Linked DNA regions of Homo sapiens: regions 2 and 3 are each linked to region 1. Evidence: fine-mapped expression QTL. A gene starts in region 1. Each other region holds a variant in brackets. All regions are shown on one strand. Distances are from middle to middle.

Region 1 (6,414 bases):
GATGGTCTCGATCTCCTGACCTCGTGAGCTTGTGATCCGCCCGCCTCGGCCTCCCAAAGTGCTGGGATTACAGGCGTGAGCCACCGTGCCCGGCCGAGATGCAACTTTCATATGAGAGCTCTTCCTGTTTCCTCTTTACTTAGAGGTTTCTAGCACTGAGTGTCCCACTAGTTGCAAGTGATTGCATCTGAACTCTAAACAGCCTTAAATTTTTTTAAATGTATTTATTTATTTACTTATTCATTTGTTTGTCTATTTTTGAGACAGGGTCTCACTCTACTTCCCAGGCTGGAGTGTGGTGGCACCATCATGGCTCACTGCAGCCTCAGACTCCTGGGTTCAGGCAATCCTCCCACCTCAGCCTCCTGAGTCGCTAGGACTACAGGTGTGTACCATCATGCTCAGCTAATTTTTTTTTTTAAGACAGGGTCTGGCTTATGCCTGCAATCCCAGCACTGTCGGAGGCTGAGGCGGGTGAATCACCTGAGGCCAGGAGTTTGAGACCAGCCTGGCCAACATGGCAAAACCCTGTCTCTACAAAAAAAATACAAAAATTAGCCATGCATGGTGGTGTACACTTGCAATTCTAGCTACTCGGGAGGCTGAGGCAGGAGAATTGCTTAAACCTGGGAGGTGGAGGTTGCAGTGAGCTAAGATCGAGCCACTGCACTCCAGTGTGGGTGACAGAGCGAAACTCCGTCTCAAAAAAAAAAAAAAAAAAAGGCAGGGTCTTGTTCTGTTGTCCAGGCTGTCTTGAACTCCTGGGCTCAAGTGATCCTCCTGTCTCAGTCTTCCAAAGCACTGAGATTACAGGCGTGAGCCACCTCATCCAGCCAAACAGGCTTTAAAAAACAACAACCAAAAAGAGGAATTTATGAGCCTGTGTTACTGAGAAGTCCTTCTGTCAAATGTAAGTTGGGTGCATTTCAGGCACAGCTGGATCCAGGAGTTCGGATGATGTCATAAGAACTGATCCTCCACAGGGTGGCAACATGGCTGCCAGCAGCCCCAAACCTTTGACGTCCATACAGCCAACGGACCCACAGAAAGACCGTTCTCTCTCAGGACCAAAGTATCAACTCTGCAGGGGCTCCAAAAAGCCCTCTGTAGGACACAAAGGCTGAGATACAGTGATTGGCCAGCCTGGTCAATGCTCACCCTGGCCACCAGGGCCAGTACATAAATGTTTGTTCCCCAAATCCTAGGGCATAGGAAAGAGGACATCAACCCACTCCACCTCCTACAACACGAGTGAGGGGAAGCCAGTGAGGGCATCCTCAAGCCAGGCAGGAGACGTCTGGACAGAGGTTTGAGGCTTTGCCTGAGGTGTGTGTGGAGGCTCTGTGGAGACAGCCTTGGATGGGGCCTGAGGGTGACCTGGCACTGCCATTCCCCAGCTGGGTGACCTTGGGTTAGGGCCCTCTCCTGTCTCAAAGTGCAGACACGCCACATGCTGGGTCTGAGGAGGTTTCTTTCTTTCTTTTTTTTTTTTTTGAGATGGAGTCTCGCTCTGTCGCCCAGGCTGGATGGAGTGGAGTGCAGTAGTGCAATCTCGGCTCACTGTAAGCTCCGCCTCCCGGGTTCATGCCATTCTCCTGCCTCAGCCTCCCGAGTAGCTGGGACTACAAGCACCCGCCACCATCCTGGCTAATTTTTTTTGTAGTTTTAGTAGAGACGGGGTTTCACCATGTTAACCAGAATGGTCTCGATCTCCTGACCTCGTGAGCCGCCCGCCTCTGCCTCGCAAAGTGCTGGGATTACAGGCGTGAGCCACCGCACCCGGCCTCTGAGGAGGTTTCTAAAGTCTCCCCCAGGCTGGGTGCAGTGGCTCACATGTGTAATCCCAGCACTTTGGGAGGCTGAAGAAGGAGGATCGCTTGAGCCCAGAAGTTTGAGACCTGTCTGGGCAACATAGTGAGACCCCATTTCTATAAAAATTTTTTTTTAATTAGCTGGGCATGGTAGTATGCGCCTGTGATCCCAGCTACTCAGGAGGCTGAGGCAGGAGGATGACTTCAGCTTGGAAGGTCAAGGCTGCAGTGAGATATGATGGTGTTCCTGCATTCCAGACTGGGTGACAGAGTGAGACTTTGCCTCTAAAAAATAAAGCCCAAGAGGCTGGGCACGGTGGCTCACGCCTGTAATCACAGCACTTTGGGAGGCCAAGGCAGGTGGATCACCTGAGGTCAGGAGTTGGAGACCAGCCTGGCCAATATGGTGAAACCCTGTCTCTACTAAAAATACAAAAAGTAGCCGCGCATGGTGGTGGACACCTGTAATCCCAGCTATTCGGGAGGCTGAGGCAGGAGAATCGCTTGAACCCAGGAGTCAGAGGTTGCAGTGAGCCGAGATCACACCACTGCACTCCAGCCTGGGTGACAGAACAAGACTCTGTCTCAAAAATAAAATAAAATAAAATAAATGCCCAAAGATATGAATGGTCTCTGAGGGACCATTCTGCTCCAACATTCTGGACTTCCGTAAGTTTGTGATTCATGCCAGATCCCGAAAGGGAATTTTGGTAGATGGAGAGGGGTAAGAAGAGGGATTAAAGTGTAGGGAGTGAGGAGGGCCCATGGAAGCCAAGTGTACATGTAAGACAGTAAAACAGACCTGTGGAAGCAGGAGGGGCCCATGGAAAAGGATGTGGCCGCATTGGTTAAAAATCCAAGGCACTCAAAAGAAGACTTTAAGGAAGGGCCATTTTTCTTTTACACCCCCTCCCCAATTTTGTTTTTAGTAAAAACAAACAAACAAACAAACAAAAAACAAAAAAACAAGCCAGGCATGATGGTTCATGCCTGTAATCCTAGCACTTTGAGAGGCCAAGCAGGCAGATCACCTGAGGCCAGGAGTTCAAGACCAGCCTGGGTAACATAGTGAAACCCTGTCTCTACTAAAAATACAACAATTAGGCAAGCCAGGCACGGTGGCTCACGCCTGTAATCCCAGCATTTTGGGAGGCCAAGGCAGGCAGATCACCTAAGGTCAGGAGTTCGAGACCAGCCTGACCAACATGGAGAAACCCCGTCTCTACTAAAAATACAAAATTAGCCAGGCTTGGTGGCACATGCCTGTAATCCCAGCTTCTCAGGAGGCTGAGGCAGGAGAATCATTTGAACCCAGTAAGCGGAGGTTGCGGTGAGCTGAGATCACGCCATTGCACTCCAGCCTGGGCAACAAGAGCGAAACTCTGTCTTAAAAAAACAAAAACAAAACAAAACAAAAAAACATAGATGGAAGGGAATTGAGACAAAGACGGAGTCAGAGGGAGGAGGCAGAGATAAGTAGAGGCCTTCAGTGGCCCTGGGCCTTTGAGTGGCTTTGGAGCCATGGACAGAGCAGCAAGGAAATCCCTGTTCTGTCTCCAGTTCTAGGTGCATGGCCACCACTGCCACGCCGGCCACGAACCAGGGCTGGCCAGAGGACTTTGGCTTCCGGCTAGGTGGCTCTGGCCCCTGCTTCGTCCTGGAGGTGGCCAAGGGGAGCAGCGCGCATGCCGGAGGACTGCGGCCAGGAGACCAGATCCTGGAGGTGGAGGGGCTGGCGGTGGGCGGTCTGAGCCGCGAGCGCCTCGTGCGCCTGGCACGGCGCTGCCCACGTGTGCCGCCCAGTCTGGGCGTGCTCCCGGCTCCCGACGGTGGCCCCGGCCCAGGATCCGGCCCCGCGGCCCCGACCACAGTCTTGCGGGCCCCGCGGTGCGGCCGCGGCCTAGCTCTGGGCCGTGAGCTGCTTCGCCTGGCCGGCCGCAAGCGCCCGGACGCGGTGCACCGAGAGCGCAGGCGCAAGGCCCAAGAGTTCAGCCGCAAGGTAAGGCGCGGGGGTGGGAGGTGGGGGCGGGAAGGAGGGGGCTCATAATGTGGGCAGGGAGTGGGCCGGGCGCCGCTCTCCCAGGGCCAGAGGTAAGGAAACTTCTGGGGTCAGATTTAACAGAAATATGGGAATGCTCAACTTCAAAACCTTGCAAACAATTTTGCATTTTTTTTTTTTGAGACAGAGTCTCGCTCTGTCACCCAAGCTGGAGTGCAGTGGCCAGGTCTTGGCTCAGTACAACCTCTGCCTCCCAAGTTCAAGTGATTCTCCTGCCTCAGTCTTCCAGTAATTGAGATTACAGGCGTTTGCCACCACACCCAGCTAATTTTTTTTTTTTTTTTTTTTTTGGTATTTTTAGTAGAGACGGGGTTTCACCATGTTGGTCAGTCTGGTCTCAAACTCCTGACCTCAAGTGATCTGCCCACCTCTGCCTCCCAAAGTGCTGGGATTACAGGCATGAGCCACTGCGCCCGGCCTAATTTTGCAATTTTTATTCACTTGTGTTTCTTTTTTATTAAGGTACTATAGGTGTAAAGTGCATTAAGTGTGCAGCTCAATAAATTTTCCATATACATGCACCCTTGAATAACCACCCTCTTGATCAATATATAAAATAATAGGATATAGATAAAAATATAATGTAGACTATAGAATAATTGACACCAGAATGTTCCCACGTGCCCCTTTCTCTGTCTATCCTCCCCATTAGAACTTAACTGCAGGCCAGGTGCTAGATGTAATCCTAGCATTTTAGGAGACCAAGGTGGGAGGATCACTTGAGACCCTGAGTTCAAGGCCAGCCTGGGCAACGTAATGAGACACCATCTCTACAAAAAAAATCAAAAACTAGCTTGGCATGGTGGTGCATGCCTTATAGTCCCAGATACTCAGGAGACTGAGGCAGGAAGATCGCTTCAGCCTGGGAGTTTGAGGCTGCAGTGAGCCATGACTGCACCACTGCATTCCAGCCTGGGTAACGGAGTGAGACCGCATCTCTAAAATAAAAAGATAAAATAAAAAGAGCCACAGATATCGCTTCTTGGCCCTTCATCTAAGATCAAGTGTAAAAGAGCCAGTGGGGTGAGGTGGCTCACGCCTGTAATCCCAGCACTTTGGGAGGCTGAGGAGGGCTGATGACTTGAACTCAGGAGTTTGAGACCAGCCTGGGCAATGTGGTGAAATCCCATCACTATCAAAAATATAAAAAAAAAAAAAACCAGCCAGGTGTGGTGGCGCGCGCCTGTGGTGCCAGATACTCAAGGGTGTTGAGGTGGGAGGATTACTTGAGCTTGGGAGACGGAGGTTGCAGTGAGCTGAGATCATGCTACTGCACTGCAGCCTGAGTGACAGAGTGAGACTCCATTCCCCTCCCCGCCATTCCCCACCTCCAAAAAAATGTAAAAGAATTCCGCCTGTTCTAAGCCCCCACAAAACCAGGATTAGACCTGCCCTTGCACAGCGGCCTGGCTGGCTTGTTGGCTGCAGGAGGCCCTAGTTTGGCTTCACCAATCTGCCAAAGGCATTTCCTCTTGACTTTGGCACAAACCAGGCTGTGATAGACTGCAGGTGGAATATTAGCGTGGTCCTGAAGATTAAGAATGAGGAGCCTGGAATGGATCAGACCTCTAGCCACAAGAAGAACCCAAGGCCTGAGTCACCTGCAGGAAGTAGGGTGTGGCCACAAGCCAAGATGGAGGCACCATTTAGAGACCCAGGGCTGGGATGGAAAGAGGGAGGATAGAGTCGGTCTCAGGCCTGAATCCCAAGCAACCCCTGATTTGCAGGAACCTGCCATTTACTGGACAGATCCAGGCAATTCCAAGAAACCTGGGACGTGACATGGTTATAAAAGAAGAAGCTGCCTAGTATGGTTACAGCTACCCCAGGCCACTGACTAGGTCCCAGTACAGCAACCTCCCATGCCATTCACCTTCACTCCTGTCCTCCAGGGCTTTCAGATGGGGTCCTAAGGCCTTTATTTCACTAATACTTGAATGGAACAAAAAGTGATCCTGTGTGCGACTAGGAAATAGTCCGGAGCCAAGACACTCAGTCCCTACCCCTGCCTGGCTATCGGACCCCTGTGGACATGAAGCCTGGAAACTCAGTATTTGCTTGGCGGCTGGGACACTTAAGCTCATAGACTTTTTTTTTTTTTTTTTTGAGGCAGAGTCTCGCTCTGTCACCCAGGCTGGAGTGCAGTGGTGTGATCTCGGCTCACTGCAACCTCCACCTCCTGGGTTCAAGTGATTCTCCTGCCTCAGCCTCCCGCGTAGCTGGGATTACAGGCGTACCCCACCATGGCCAGCTATTTTTTTTTTCTGTATTCTTAGTAGAGATGGGGTTTCACCATATTGGTCAGGCTGGTCTTGAACTCCTGACCTCGTGATCCATCTGCTGCGGCCTCCCAGAGTGCTGGGATTACAGGCGTGAGCCACCGCATCTGGCCAACTTTTTTTACATTATTTTGATTTTTAATTTTTGTGGGTACCTAATACGTGTATATATTTATGGGGTATCTGAGATACTCTAATACAGGCATGCAATGTGAAATAAGCATGTCATGGAGAATGGGGTACCCATCCCCTCAAGCATTTATCT
Region 2 (6,414 bases), 730 kb before region 1:
CACTCTGCTATAGTCTGAATGTTTCTGTCCTCCCCAAATTTATATGGTAAAATCCTAATGTCCAAGGTGATGGTATTAGGAGGTGAGGCCTTTAGAAGGTATTAGATAATGAAGGCTCCACCCTCATGACAGGTATTAGTATGCTTATAAGAGATACACCAGAGAGCTAGCTAGCCCCTTTTACCATCTAAGGATACAGCAAGAAAGGTGTCAGTTAGGAGCGAGGAAATGGGCTCTTACCAGACACTGTATCTGCTGGTGCCTTGATCTTGGACCAGCATCTAGAACAGTGAGAAATAAATTGCTATTGTTTATAAGCCACGTGGTTTATATTTTGTTATAGAAACTTGAAAAAACTAAGACACTTCAAGATTATCTGCCTCATATTTTCATAGGCAGTGTTCCCTTTTCTTGGAAACTCCTTAGTCTCAGCCCTTTAAATCTTGCCTACCTTCTAGTATCATCACAAATGTAAGACCAAACTTTTCCACCCAGATGAAATGTTTATTCACTTACTTTTTCTGCCACAGATTATCATAATTTACACATACATTTTATTCCTTTTTGTTACCTTCTCAAGAGAAAGTATTGAGGCTTATTTTTGTTTTTCTTCTCAGGCCTAACATATTGCCTTGTATGTACTGATTACTCAATAAACATTTGTTGTTTTAAGTGGATTGTGTTGAATTCACTGCAAAGGAAGAGAAACTATCTATTGAAAAGCAATTGATAGTAAGTAAAACATCTGCCAAACCAATATGTTTTCTACATACAGGAAAACCAGAGAGCTGTCTTAGTTACTCTATAGCCTAAACAACAGTTAATTATATGGAAATTGTTCACAATATGTGGTAATTAGAGTTCTCATCTTTAAGTTGATGATTATATTTTATTTAGCTATTATTTAAGACTATGCAAAACTCTCCCTCTCCATTTTGTTTATTGTCTACTAAGCTAGAATATTGTCATTTATTAGAAAACTGTCATTTATATAAGGCACTGAGGATTGTTGAAAGGGATGGAAAGAAATGGGACCTGCTTTGAAAAAAAATTTATAAAGTGATCAAATCTCCCTGAGTCTCATTCTACATAAAAAGAGAATTTCAGCTGTTCTAGAAAAAAAAATAGTGAAGTAGCACTACAGCGCTAGCATAAGAGCCAAAGAGGAAAGAAACATGAAAAGCAGCTCAACCGTCAAAGACAGGTTTATTTTGGAGAATAAACCTGAGAGGGGCTTCTGGCTGATTTTTGGTTAGGAGCCTTCTGTCTTACAGAATAAGTATTTAAGGGTTCAGGGTGAGAGAACTTACCACAGGCTTGGAATGTTTCTGGTGGGGGAGAAATTTATTGCAGGGTTGGAATGTCTCTGGCTGGAGGGGAGGTTATCTTGGGGCTGACATCTCTCTGGCTGGAGGGGAGGTTATCTTGGGGCTGGCAAGTCTCTGGTTGGGGAGGGGTTTATCTTATGGTTGGAATGTTTCTGGTAAGAGATGTCATTTGTGGCTTATGGTCATTCTGACCTTAGTCATTAGGCTGATGCCCTTGGATTTACGAGGTTTTTGATGAAGGTGAACATTAAAATGGCAGTGCTTGTCCAAGATGGCGATGTTCCTGCTCTGTCAACTAGACTTTCTCCTTCTGAGTTCTATCTTTTGCCCTCTGCTTGTTTCTGTCTTCTGTGAGGCTGCAAAAAGCACCAATCTGCCTGCCGTGTAGGCATCCCAGAGCTGAGGATGACCTAAGTTCCTTCCCCAGTCAAATAATATGACAAATTACCTTATACCAAAGAACTATTTACTAATAGTCTCTAAATTATTACTTTTCGTAGGTATTTTCACTGTACTTATTTTGACAACAGAAATGAAACCCTTGTGGATCTCTGACCTACCCTGAGTCACATCCTTTGAACTCTCCTATTGTATTGCAGGGAAGAACACGGTTTCTTTTCTTTTACCCTTCAAGGTTCTGTTGCTGGGGCCCTGTAAACTAAATTGACAAAAGATCATGCCTCAGCCTCCTGAGTAGCTGGGATTATAGGCGTGTGCCACCATGCCTGGCAAATTTTTGTATTTTTAGTAGAGACAAGGTTTTACCATGTTGCCCAGGCTAGTCTCGAACTCCTGGACTCAAGTGTTCTGTTCCCCTTGGCCTCCCAAAGTGCTTGGATTAAAGGTGTGAGCCACTGTGGCTGGTCCAATTTGCTTGTCTTATAAGCAAAATGGTTACATCAAGCCTGCATGATATTCCCAAAGGCAAAAGTATGGACACCAAGGGTTAAAACATGAAAGAATTTTGTAAAGTCAAGGTATAACTATTGCAATAAAGATCATCATAAAATATAGAACTATAATACAATACCAGGAAAATTTTAGCTCATTTTCCTTTTAGCATTAAGCATATTTTTAACCTTTTCCAAACATATCTGTCATGTTCCTATTTTTGAAGAACTCAGAGGGGCAGATGTGTAATTACAGTGATATTCTGAGTAGTCCTTCATGCATAAATAACAGTTTCAACAACCAGAATCTTATAATCAAGGACAAGTCCTTAGCCACAACTTGTGGAAAAGTGGGATTGGGACCAAGTAAAACACCAAAGGATCAGATCTTCATTGAAAAAGTGAAAAAGCAACACCCACATGTATCTTTATTTCTATTGGTACATTCATTTATGAATTTTCCATTCACATATTGTCCTGAACACTCCCAACACAAAGTTGACATAGGTAGAGGAGAGAAAGTCACATGGGAGAGAGCCGTCTTACAAATTAAGACATATCTAGTCATTGGGAAGGAAGTCCCTCCTCCACTCCATTCCCACCACCATCCCAAGCCTCACCACGGAGTAACCTAGTATCTCTACTCTCTCTTTAAAAAACAACAACAACAGTAACAACAAAAAGGTTCTCACTATGTTG[C/T]CCAGGCTGGTCTTGAACTCCTGGCCTCAAATAATTCTGCTTCAGCCTCTCAAAGTGCTGGGATTACAGGCATGAGCTACCATGCCTGGCGTCTGCCACTTTCTTTACTGTTAATAGGATCCATGAATACTATAGTGAAAAGCACAAGAAAGACACCAAACTGGTTAAAAATAAGAGGCACAAAATTACCTAACTGAATAAAATTCAGTGCTCTATCATAATAGATTCTGTGTGTCTTAAAAATGAAATCATAGATTTCCAAATATTCAAAGGAACTTACAAATTCTATTAAACTTACAGATATGTTTATTGGACTATTTCCCCTTGTTAGACTGAGAGAAATAGGAATCATTTATCTAAATTCTTCACATCACATTGATTAATGAATGCTTTCATTTATCTAACCAGTATCTATCCAGTGAGGCTGTGAGCAAGTCACCATGTTAGGCTCAGGATGGGGGTTGGGGAGAGAATTGCTCAGAAACTTTATAATCTGATGGATGCTAGTGATTTCTTAGGATCTTGATTATGATGTTATCAAAATCGATCTACATTTTTAAAGAATTCCATATCATCTAAGGGACCTCAGGAACCAAAGGCGTGCATACTATGGATCCTCCATATTTTCTAATTCTTTTATTCCTTTGAAAAAAGCTGTCTATAGAGAAAGATCTTATTTATTACTGGTTAATTTCAAAAAGGTTTTGAGGTAGCAGAAAACGGTCTCCAGCTATAAGTTGAAAAAAGGAGAACAGCACAAGTGCAGTAAAAAAAAAAAAAAAAAAAAAAATCCTACATAACCAGACAATGTACCAAGGCTACATCTGTCCCTGGAAAAAACTCAGTATTCCTATAGGAAATCACTCTGCCATTCAAAAGCTTTGCTAAATATAGTCAGGCAGCAGAGCCTAGGCATTAAATCAGTAGGGCTGGTTTGTTGATTATGAATGGACTAAATTCAGGAAGACATAGTGTCCTCTAGGAAGGCCCCATCTACCCCTTGCCTATGTATCACCCTACTTTTTATCTAGGCTTTATCTGTATTGGGGAAAATTGTTCCCAGTTACCACTTCCCTGGTACCTTAGTGGTGCTGAGAAAAGCTCCCTGCATGGAGGAGCAAGGCAACACCCTACCATGTGATGCAGCATCAGTGGAGTGGGGTAGGTGGGGAGAACCACTTTGAGGGCTGTTTTTGGGACTCATCATGGACAAAACAGATCCTTTGTAGGTCAAGGAAAATAAATGTGTTGGGGATGGGAAAAGATAGACACATGAAGAAATATTAGAAGGATTCTCTGCTTTTATTTGAATGCATGTTTTCTTATTGCTTCTACATCCAGAATGAGTTTTTGTAGGCTAGCTGGCTCTTCAGTTCTCCAGTAATGAAAGTGAGATGGAATACTAGCCAGTTCAATTAATCATTGATTTTAATGAATGTTCATTGTGCACCTTTTATGTGCCAGGCTCTTCCAGGAGCTGGGAAACAGCGGTGAACAAGACGAGAAGCTCCTCTTCTGGGGTAGGGTGGGAGGATAAACATTCCAATAGGCAGCATCCTGATCATCTCGATATGCCCTTGACCGATATATTCAATATTTTATTTGTTGGTGTATTCTTGGCCTCCCATCCATATACTCTACTTATATAGGACATGACAATAGGCCACTTATTCTCAACTCCCTGGACACTTAGTCTCAGCCATGTTGTACTTGCTCTTCTTAGTCATCCTCATGGTCTTGCTTTCTGTCTCATTCACTCCTATGCATTGTCTGCAACAGAAGCACAATGAGTAGTTTTTAGGATTTAACCAAGATCTGAGGCCTGAGGTTCTACCCCTGGCCTTTTCATTCTCATAGACTTTCTGGCTCAACCATACCCCTTGCTTTGCCCAAGCCTTGCTATAAGCCCTCAGCTCTTACATGTGCCTCTCCCAGTGTTGACTTGTATATACACTGTCCTGCACCTGCTCTTACAACTGACCAATAGGTGACTTGCAGCACATGTACCAGTGCTGAGAAATGTCAATATCTGTCTTCCTCTTTGCCTGCAAGCCTCAGTAGGAGTGATGCCCATCTACCATGCTCCAAAACATCTCAGCCCTATTGAAATTATTATCATGTGAACAACTACCCTCTTTAAAAACCAGAATAAGTTATTAGAGACTTGGATTTAAATACCTTAGGAATGGTGAAGGTAGAAGACAAAGCCCCTAACCCCTATACATGGGCATGTACTTGCTGGAACAAGCTTGAGATTGTACCTTGAGCTGGAACATTTGTGAAGCACTGCCCTGTCACACCTCTAATTTATTACCACCTGCAGATATTGTTTAGGCATCATATATTACTCTAAGAATCACTACTACTTGCATATAAGGTCATTTTTACCCTAACGTAAAAGTAAATAGTTGACAATGATCGATGAGCAGTCCTGGGTAGTGTTCTCTAAGAGAAAAGACCAGAGTGGCAAAGATTTCCTGCCTAGCAACCCCTCCCTTTTATGAACAGGTACTGTGACTTGTCTTGGATTTCACTTCCTACTCCATTCCTTCTATTCCCCACTCCTAAATGGTAATTTAGGACATTTACCAGTCTGCAAGAGAGTTTGAGGGGGAAACACTGTCCTAAAGGGCTATAAATGAAATCAAAGGCATGGTCTCTGGGGAGTCTCTCTATGTCAAAGAGAGTCAGATCCTCCAGGTACTTAGATCTACTGGGAAGATCGGACAGATTCATGAAGTAGACAAAAAGTCATGTAAAGCCACGTAACAAACAAATGCAAATTGAAACTAAATGCCCAGTATGACTATAAATTCTAGAGAGACTTGAAATAGAGATGTAATACATAGATGACAGTAAAAGAAGGCTTGCTGGAAACAGAATCCTCTCAAGATTGTGGGTATGGTGCCTCTTGGCAATCTGCACCAGCACAGCTGCCAGAAAACAGGAAATCTGGCCAGAGATGCTAAGAAAAAAAATCCAATGTCTGTGACAAGCTGTCAGACAGTCATTAGCATTCCCCTGACCACAGAGGAGCTCAAATTTGAAGGTCTCGCCTGATCAAACACACTTTCTGAGTAATGAAGTATTGAGCCAATCCTTGGAATAAAAAGCCTGTAAGTCTCCTTGGAAATATACTGCCATTTGGAACACGTTCATCTCCTGCTTGTGGGCATATCCCCTCTGGGTCCGTTTGCTTTCTAAATTTCAACTATTAAAATGGAAATAAATGATTTGCTATATCTAAGGTGGGACTAACATCTGATCCATGTTCGGTCTTCCAAACAGGGTACTAAAGGTGTTGGTAGTTCTGATGTAATAAATAGTACTTAAGTTGACCTAATACATTTCTGAATAAGAAACTATTGCAATTGTAAAACAGGTAGTTTAAATAGGATTGATCACTTTTTCCTTTTGATAAATTTACCTACTTGTGTATTATGCGTGTTTTAAATGCATTTGCTTTTTATTCAAAGAACAGAAATACCACTTTTTTC
Region 3 (5,707 bases), 56 kb after region 1:
ACGGCCCAGCCAGCACTTCGGGCGCTCGACGGGCTGCAGCGCGAGGCCATGGAGGAGCTGGGCAAGGCGCTGGCCTTCTTTGGGGAGGATTCCAAGGCCACCACCTCTGAGGCTTTCTTCGGCATCTTTGCAGAGTTCATGAGCAAATTCGAGGTGAGCCTCGCTGGAGCCCTGAGGGGCCCTTTTGGAGAGGTGGGGGCCAGAGGCCAAATGAAGGGATCCTCCATGAAGCCAGGGCTGGGAAAGGGGCTCCAGTGAGCGACATGTCCCCCTAACCCCCTGATGGGCTGTCTAGTGTGGGAAGAGACAGGGAAGGCGTCACAGGTTCCTGGGACCACTGACCACCCTACCTCTGTGTTCCCCCTCCCCAGCGAGCGCTGAGTGACCTGCAGGCCGGGGAGGGCCTGCGCAGCTCCGGGATGGTTTCACCCCTGGCCTGGTGACAGTGGCCACACCGCGTCCTCTGCGGCCTGAGCAGGGAGATGGAGGCCGAGAGGGCAGCCCAGACACTGCCGAGGTCCGGGGCCACTGTGCCCCGGGCTCTGAGCACACCGCCAGCCTCTCCTGCAGCTACCTCAGCCGCCGAGCTGTGGTCGGGCCCTCCTCTGCCAGCCCTTGTTCCTACCCCCAGGCCCAGAGCCAGATGCTGTAGGAGCAGGTGCTGAGTGTGCCTGCACATGGAGGACCGTGCTCTGTCGGCTTCTTGGGCCCACTTCCCACTTCGCTCCCAGGCTGTCAGGGGGGCCTGGAGGGTGGATTACAAAGTGGCCACATTCCTGGGACATGTGGACCTTTTTTCTGATCCTGCTCCTAGTGGGTCCCTGTGAGGGGGCCGACACCCTTGAGCACGACCCTGCAGGCAGGCGCGAGACGCGAGAGGGCAGAAAGCCGGATGTAGAGGGGCCCTGGGGATGTGCACGCCCAGCCTGGGCCTTGGAAGCTGGCTTCAGGGACACAGGAAGAGAGAAGCCTGGGAGAGACGCAGGGAAGGAAGGACTGGAGAAGGAAGACCCCCTATGTCAGACTGCGGAATTGAGGTTTCATGCAGTGGACAAACCCAAACCTGTGTAGAGGTGGCCCAATTGGAAGTGGGGAGCCTGGGAGTGGAATAGGTGTGGTCAAGGTAGAGCAGACAGAATGGGGAGGTGTTGAGGCAGGAGGTGAGCAGGATCTGGTGGCCAACTGCCAGACTTCTCACCTGGACGGATGGTGATGTTCCCTGGAGCAAGTCATGAGACCGGGGCAGGTGTGGGGGCAGATGACACAATCTGGGATGTGTTTGGGACCCAAATGGTCATTTTACATGTGCCTAGGCATATAGCAGGAGTTACCTGGATACCAGGAGCAGGAGCAGGTGGCGTGGTGGGCAGGGAGGGAGGGTGTGTGAACTGTTTCACCTTTTTTAAAATTCTCTGATTGACAGATCCTTGGATCAGACAGCTTCCCTCGTTGCACTTTTTTTTTTTTTTTTTTTTGGAAAAGTCTGAAATGGGCTTTAATCCTGTCTCATGGATTCTTTTTCTCCCACTGCAATCAAATGGCTTACATTGCACCTGGGCAGTACTGGGAACCTGTTCAGTTCTTCCCAGTCTCCCCTAGGCCCCTCTTGGAAGCCACCTTTGTTTTTTTGTTCCTTGCACACAAGCACCATACAAAAACATCAAAACCAAAATATATACTGCAAGGGGGATGTGGCTAGTGGGGTACATTTCACCCTAGCAGCTCAAGCAGAATTGTTTCCAAAAGTTCCCAGTGCCTGTGTCTCTGGGAAACATGTCAGGAGGTCAGTTAAAACCTCTGCAGGCAGGGCGTGGGGGCTCACGCCTGTAATTCCAACACTTCGGGAGGCTGAGGCAGGTGGATCACCTGAGGCCAGAAGTTCAAGACCAGCCTGGCCAACATAGTGAAGCCATATCTCTACTAAAAATACACAAAATTAGCCGGGCGTGGTGGCACGCGCTTGTATTCACAGCTACTTGGGAGGCTGAGGCAGAAGAATTGCTTGAACCTGGGGGTCGGAGGTTGCAGTGAGCCAAGATCCTGCCACTGCACTCCAGCCTGAGCGACAGAGTGAGACTCCATTTGAAAAAAAAAAAAAAAACCCTGCATAAGATCTGTAGAGATAATAGACTCCAACAGGCGTGATTTCCAGGCCTGGTTAGCCCACATGGCATTTTCCTGCAAGTTAGAAACACATGTCCCTTCCAGGAGACCTAACCTCTTGATTGCACAGTGTGGCAGGCCAAGCACCAGCTAGGTTTTCTCCCTAGCATGCCTTTTATTGGTTGTTTGCTACAACAACGCTGCATAACAAACTGTCCCAAAACTCA[C/T]TGGCTTCAAACAGCAATCACTTACTGCTCACAAGTCTCTGGGTCCCAGTTCTGATCTGAGCTAGGCTCTGCATCTTCAGTCAGCTATGAGTCAGCTAGGCAGCTTTGGTAATCATACCAAGCAATCTCATGTCTGGGGCCTTTGGCTGGAAAAGCTGGGATAGCCCTGTGGGGTCTCTCATTTTGCACCCAAATAGCCAGGATTTTTTTCATGAGGGGACTGGGGGTCAAAGAAGGTGAACAACCAAAGGCACAGAAGATGGCTTGAGGCTGAGGCTCAGAGCTGGTACACCGTGCCTTCTGCCACAATCTGCTGTCCATCCAAATGACAAGGCCAGCCCTGATTCTAGGGGAAGGGAAACAGGCTCTGCTAGGAGATATCGCAAAGCCACTCCACACAGGGTGAGGATTCAGGGACAGATGGAGAATCAGGAGCATTTTTGCAATTAATCTACTGGATGACCTCTTGGCCAGGGGTGCAGATCCCAGCCTCCTTAAAATCCCCAATGGCACTGGTGCTGCCTGGACCCAGCACAGATCTGGTTCCCCATCCCCATGTACTCACCAGGTGGCATGCTTCTGTGTCTTACCTGGTCACCCATGAATTACCTGACTTCTATCCAGATACTTAGTCCAGTCTGGGCACAGTGGCTCATGCCTGTAATCCCAGCACTTTGGGAGGCCGAGGTAGGTGGATTACTTGAGGTCAGGAGTTTGAGACCAGCCTGGCCAACATGGTGAAACCCTGTCTCTACTAAAAATACAAAAATTAGCCAAGTGTGGTGGCAGGCGCCTGTAATCCCAGCTACTCGGGAGGCTGAGGCACAAGAATCTATTGAACCTGGGAGGCAGAGGTTGCAGTGTGCCAAGATTGCGCCTCTGAACTCCAGCCCTGGTGACAGAGGGAGACTCTGTCTCAAAAAATAATAATAATAATACATAAATAAATGAAATAGATACTTAGTCCGGTGGGCAGTGTGGTCTGCCTGCCTGGCAACCAGTCTCGCCCTTCTGCTGGGAAAGGATTCCTGTTTCTCGTTTCAGAAATTATCTCTCCCCTACTCCCAGGGCCTGGAGCTGGAGTGATTGGATAAAGATGATCTTGTGACTCTGGCTGTGTGGCTCAGAGTCAGTCCAAGCCTCCGGCTGGCACTGTTTGAAAAAGAGATTCCCTTTGCTCTGGAATTTCTGGGTGTATAGAAGGTAGGAGTCAGGAGGGGCTGCCAAGACCACCATATGAAGGGCACCTGCCTGGATATAAAGCTAGCACAGGAGAAAAAACGGGGAGAAGATCACCATATACATCCCACTGTCCCTGGATCCAGCCATACCTGAAGCACACACTGGCCTTGTCAGTCTTCAAGACAACAGATTCTCCTTACATTTAAAAGAATTTTAAATGTATTTAAATTCCCTGGCTTAGGCTGGTTTGAATGGTTGCTATTACTTACAACCCTGAAAGGGTTAACTAACAGACCCATTAACAGATGCTGATAGATGTTCAGTACTCAGTGAGTGCTCTTCCTTCCTGCACTCATTGGCCAATGCCTTTTTTTTTTTTTTTTTTGAGACAGAGTCTCACTCTGTCGCCCAGGCTGGAGTGCAGTGGCACAATCTCTCAGCTCACTGCAAGCTCTGCCTCCCGGGTTCATGCCATTCTCCTGCCTCAGCCTCCCGAGTAGCTAGGACTACAGGCACCCGCCACCACGTCCAACTAATTTTTTGTATTTTTTAGTAGAGACAGGGTTTCACTGTGTTAGCCAGGATGGTCTCAATCTTCTGACCTCGTGATCCACCCTCCTCGGCCTTCCAGAGTGCTGGGATTACAGGTGTGAGCCACTGCGCCTGGCCTGCTTTTTATATTTTATATATTTTTATTATCATTATTATTTTGAGACAGGGTCTTGTTCTGTCGCCCAGGCTGGAGTACAGTGGGATAATCTCGGCTCACCGCAACCTCTGCCTCTCGGGTTCAAGCGATTCTCCTGCCTCAGCCTCCTGAGTAGCTGGGACTACAGGCATGTGCCACCACGCCCGGCTAATTTTTGTATTTTTAGTAGAGATGGGGTTTCAACATGTTGGCCAGGCTGGTCTCAAACTGCTGACCTCGTGATCCGCCTGCCTCAGCCTCCCAAAGTGCTGGGATTGCAGACGTGAGCCACTGCGCCAGGCCGGCCAGTGCTTTTTAATTGCCTACTGTGTGCCAGGTGCGTTGCTAGGTACCAGCATCTTAGAAGGCAGCCTCTCTGAGTCTGGTTACCTGGGGTTATGTTTTATGGTGGTTCTACCCCAGAGTCAGTGCAAAGCCCTGTATGTGACTCAATATCTGTACCATATCCACCCAGACCCCCTAGTTCCTCACCAAATGACAAGGTGTGAATGCAGGCACTTATGCCTCAGGAATTCATTTATCTCCAATAATACTAACAAAATAACGTAGCCTCACGATACACCACCTTTCCAGATAGTAATATCCGTGAGTGGTTCGTTAGTGTGCTCAGTGTTTTTACGGATTTCATTTCATTTTACTTTCACAAAAACCCAAGGTGGATTTCATTACCTCTTTTTTGCAAGTAAAACTCTGAAACTTAGGAAGGTTATGTGACTTGCTGGATCTAAAACCCAAGTCTGTCTAAATCCAAAAGCCCCATCCTCTGAGTGAAAATAGCTGCCATACACACACACACACACACACACACACACACACACACACACACACACACACACACACACACACACACGTATCAGCACTCTAAGGGCCACAGATGCTGGGGGTTTCAACATAAAACCCTTACTTCTTTTCTCTCTTCCTGTTCCGTCTATTCGTTTGCTAGGGCTGCTATGATAAAAATACCATAGATTGGGCAGCTTAAACGAAAAAATGTGTTTTCCCACAGTTTTGGGGGCTGGAAGTCCAAGATCAAAGTGTCAGCAGGTTGGGTCTCTCCTGAGGCTGTTCTCCTTGGCTTGCAGACAAGCTTTCTCCCTGTGTCCTCACTCGGTCTTTTCTCCCCGGCATTTCTTCCTTCTCCTTCTCTGTCTCCGTCTCCCTCTCCATCTCCGTCTCTGTCTCCTCCTCCTCCTCCTTCCTCCCTCCTCCTCCTTCCTCCTCTATCCTCCTTCTTTCTTTCTTCTTCTTCTTCTTTTTTTTTTAAGATGGAGTCTTGCTCTGTCACCCAGGCTGGAGTGCAGTGGCGCGATCTCAGCTTACTGCAACCTCCACCTCCTGGGTTCAAGTGATTCTCCTGCCTCAGCCTCCCAAGTAGCTGGGATTACAGGCACACACTGCCAAACCTGGCTAATTTTTGTATTTTTAGTACAGACAGGGTTTCACTATGTTGGCCAGGCTGGTGTCAAACGCCTGACCTCAGGCCTGC

Which allele goes with the higher level. Positions count from the first base shown, and alleles are read on the strand shown. Sizes are in standard deviations (SD) of each study's normalised expression.
As copies of T replace C in region 2, the expression in stomach of the gene that starts at base 3,357 in region 1 goes down (small effect, 0.31 SD a copy in GTEx).
For the expression in transverse colon of the gene that starts at base 3,357 in region 1, T is the low allele of the variant in region 3 and C is the other (small effect, 0.33 SD a copy in GTEx).

The links. PIP is the estimated chance that this variant, and not a neighbour inherited with it, causes the effect. A credible set is the group of variants that fine-mapping cannot tell apart.
Region 2: its variant is the best candidate, but not a certain one, in a credible set for the expression of GRID2IP in stomach (GTEx, PIP 0.63).
Region 3: its variant is the best candidate, but not a certain one, in a credible set for the expression of GRID2IP in transverse colon (GTEx, PIP 0.69).

What each region holds. Positions count from the first base shown.
Region 1 is chr7:6,548,404-6,554,817 of GRCh38, reverse strand. It overlaps GRID2IP (Grid2 interacting protein), which reads left to right and starts at 3,357. Exons shown (of 22, transcript NM_001145118.2): 1 at 3,357-3,810. The coding sequence starts at 3,382.
Region 2 is chr7:7,275,858-7,282,271 of GRCh38, reverse strand. LINC03016 (long intergenic non-protein coding RNA 3016) reads right to left here. Exons shown (of 4, transcript NR_108073.1): 4 at 4,203-4,687. The region is part of intron 1 of LOC107986764 (a long non-coding RNA gene); the gene reads right to left. Among named protein-coding and RNA genes, the nearest start is that of LINC03016, 24 kb to the right of the region's middle. The variant C/T (reference allele first, on the strand shown) is at 2,918.
Region 3 is chr7:6,492,510-6,498,216 of GRCh38, reverse strand. It overlaps GRID2IP (Grid2 interacting protein), which reads left to right. Exons shown (of 22, transcript NM_001145118.2): 21 at 1-153; 22 at 372-1,439. The coding sequence ends at 443. Among named protein-coding and RNA genes, the nearest start is that of KDELR2, 11 kb to the right of the region's middle. The variant C/T (reference allele first, on the strand shown) is at 2,331.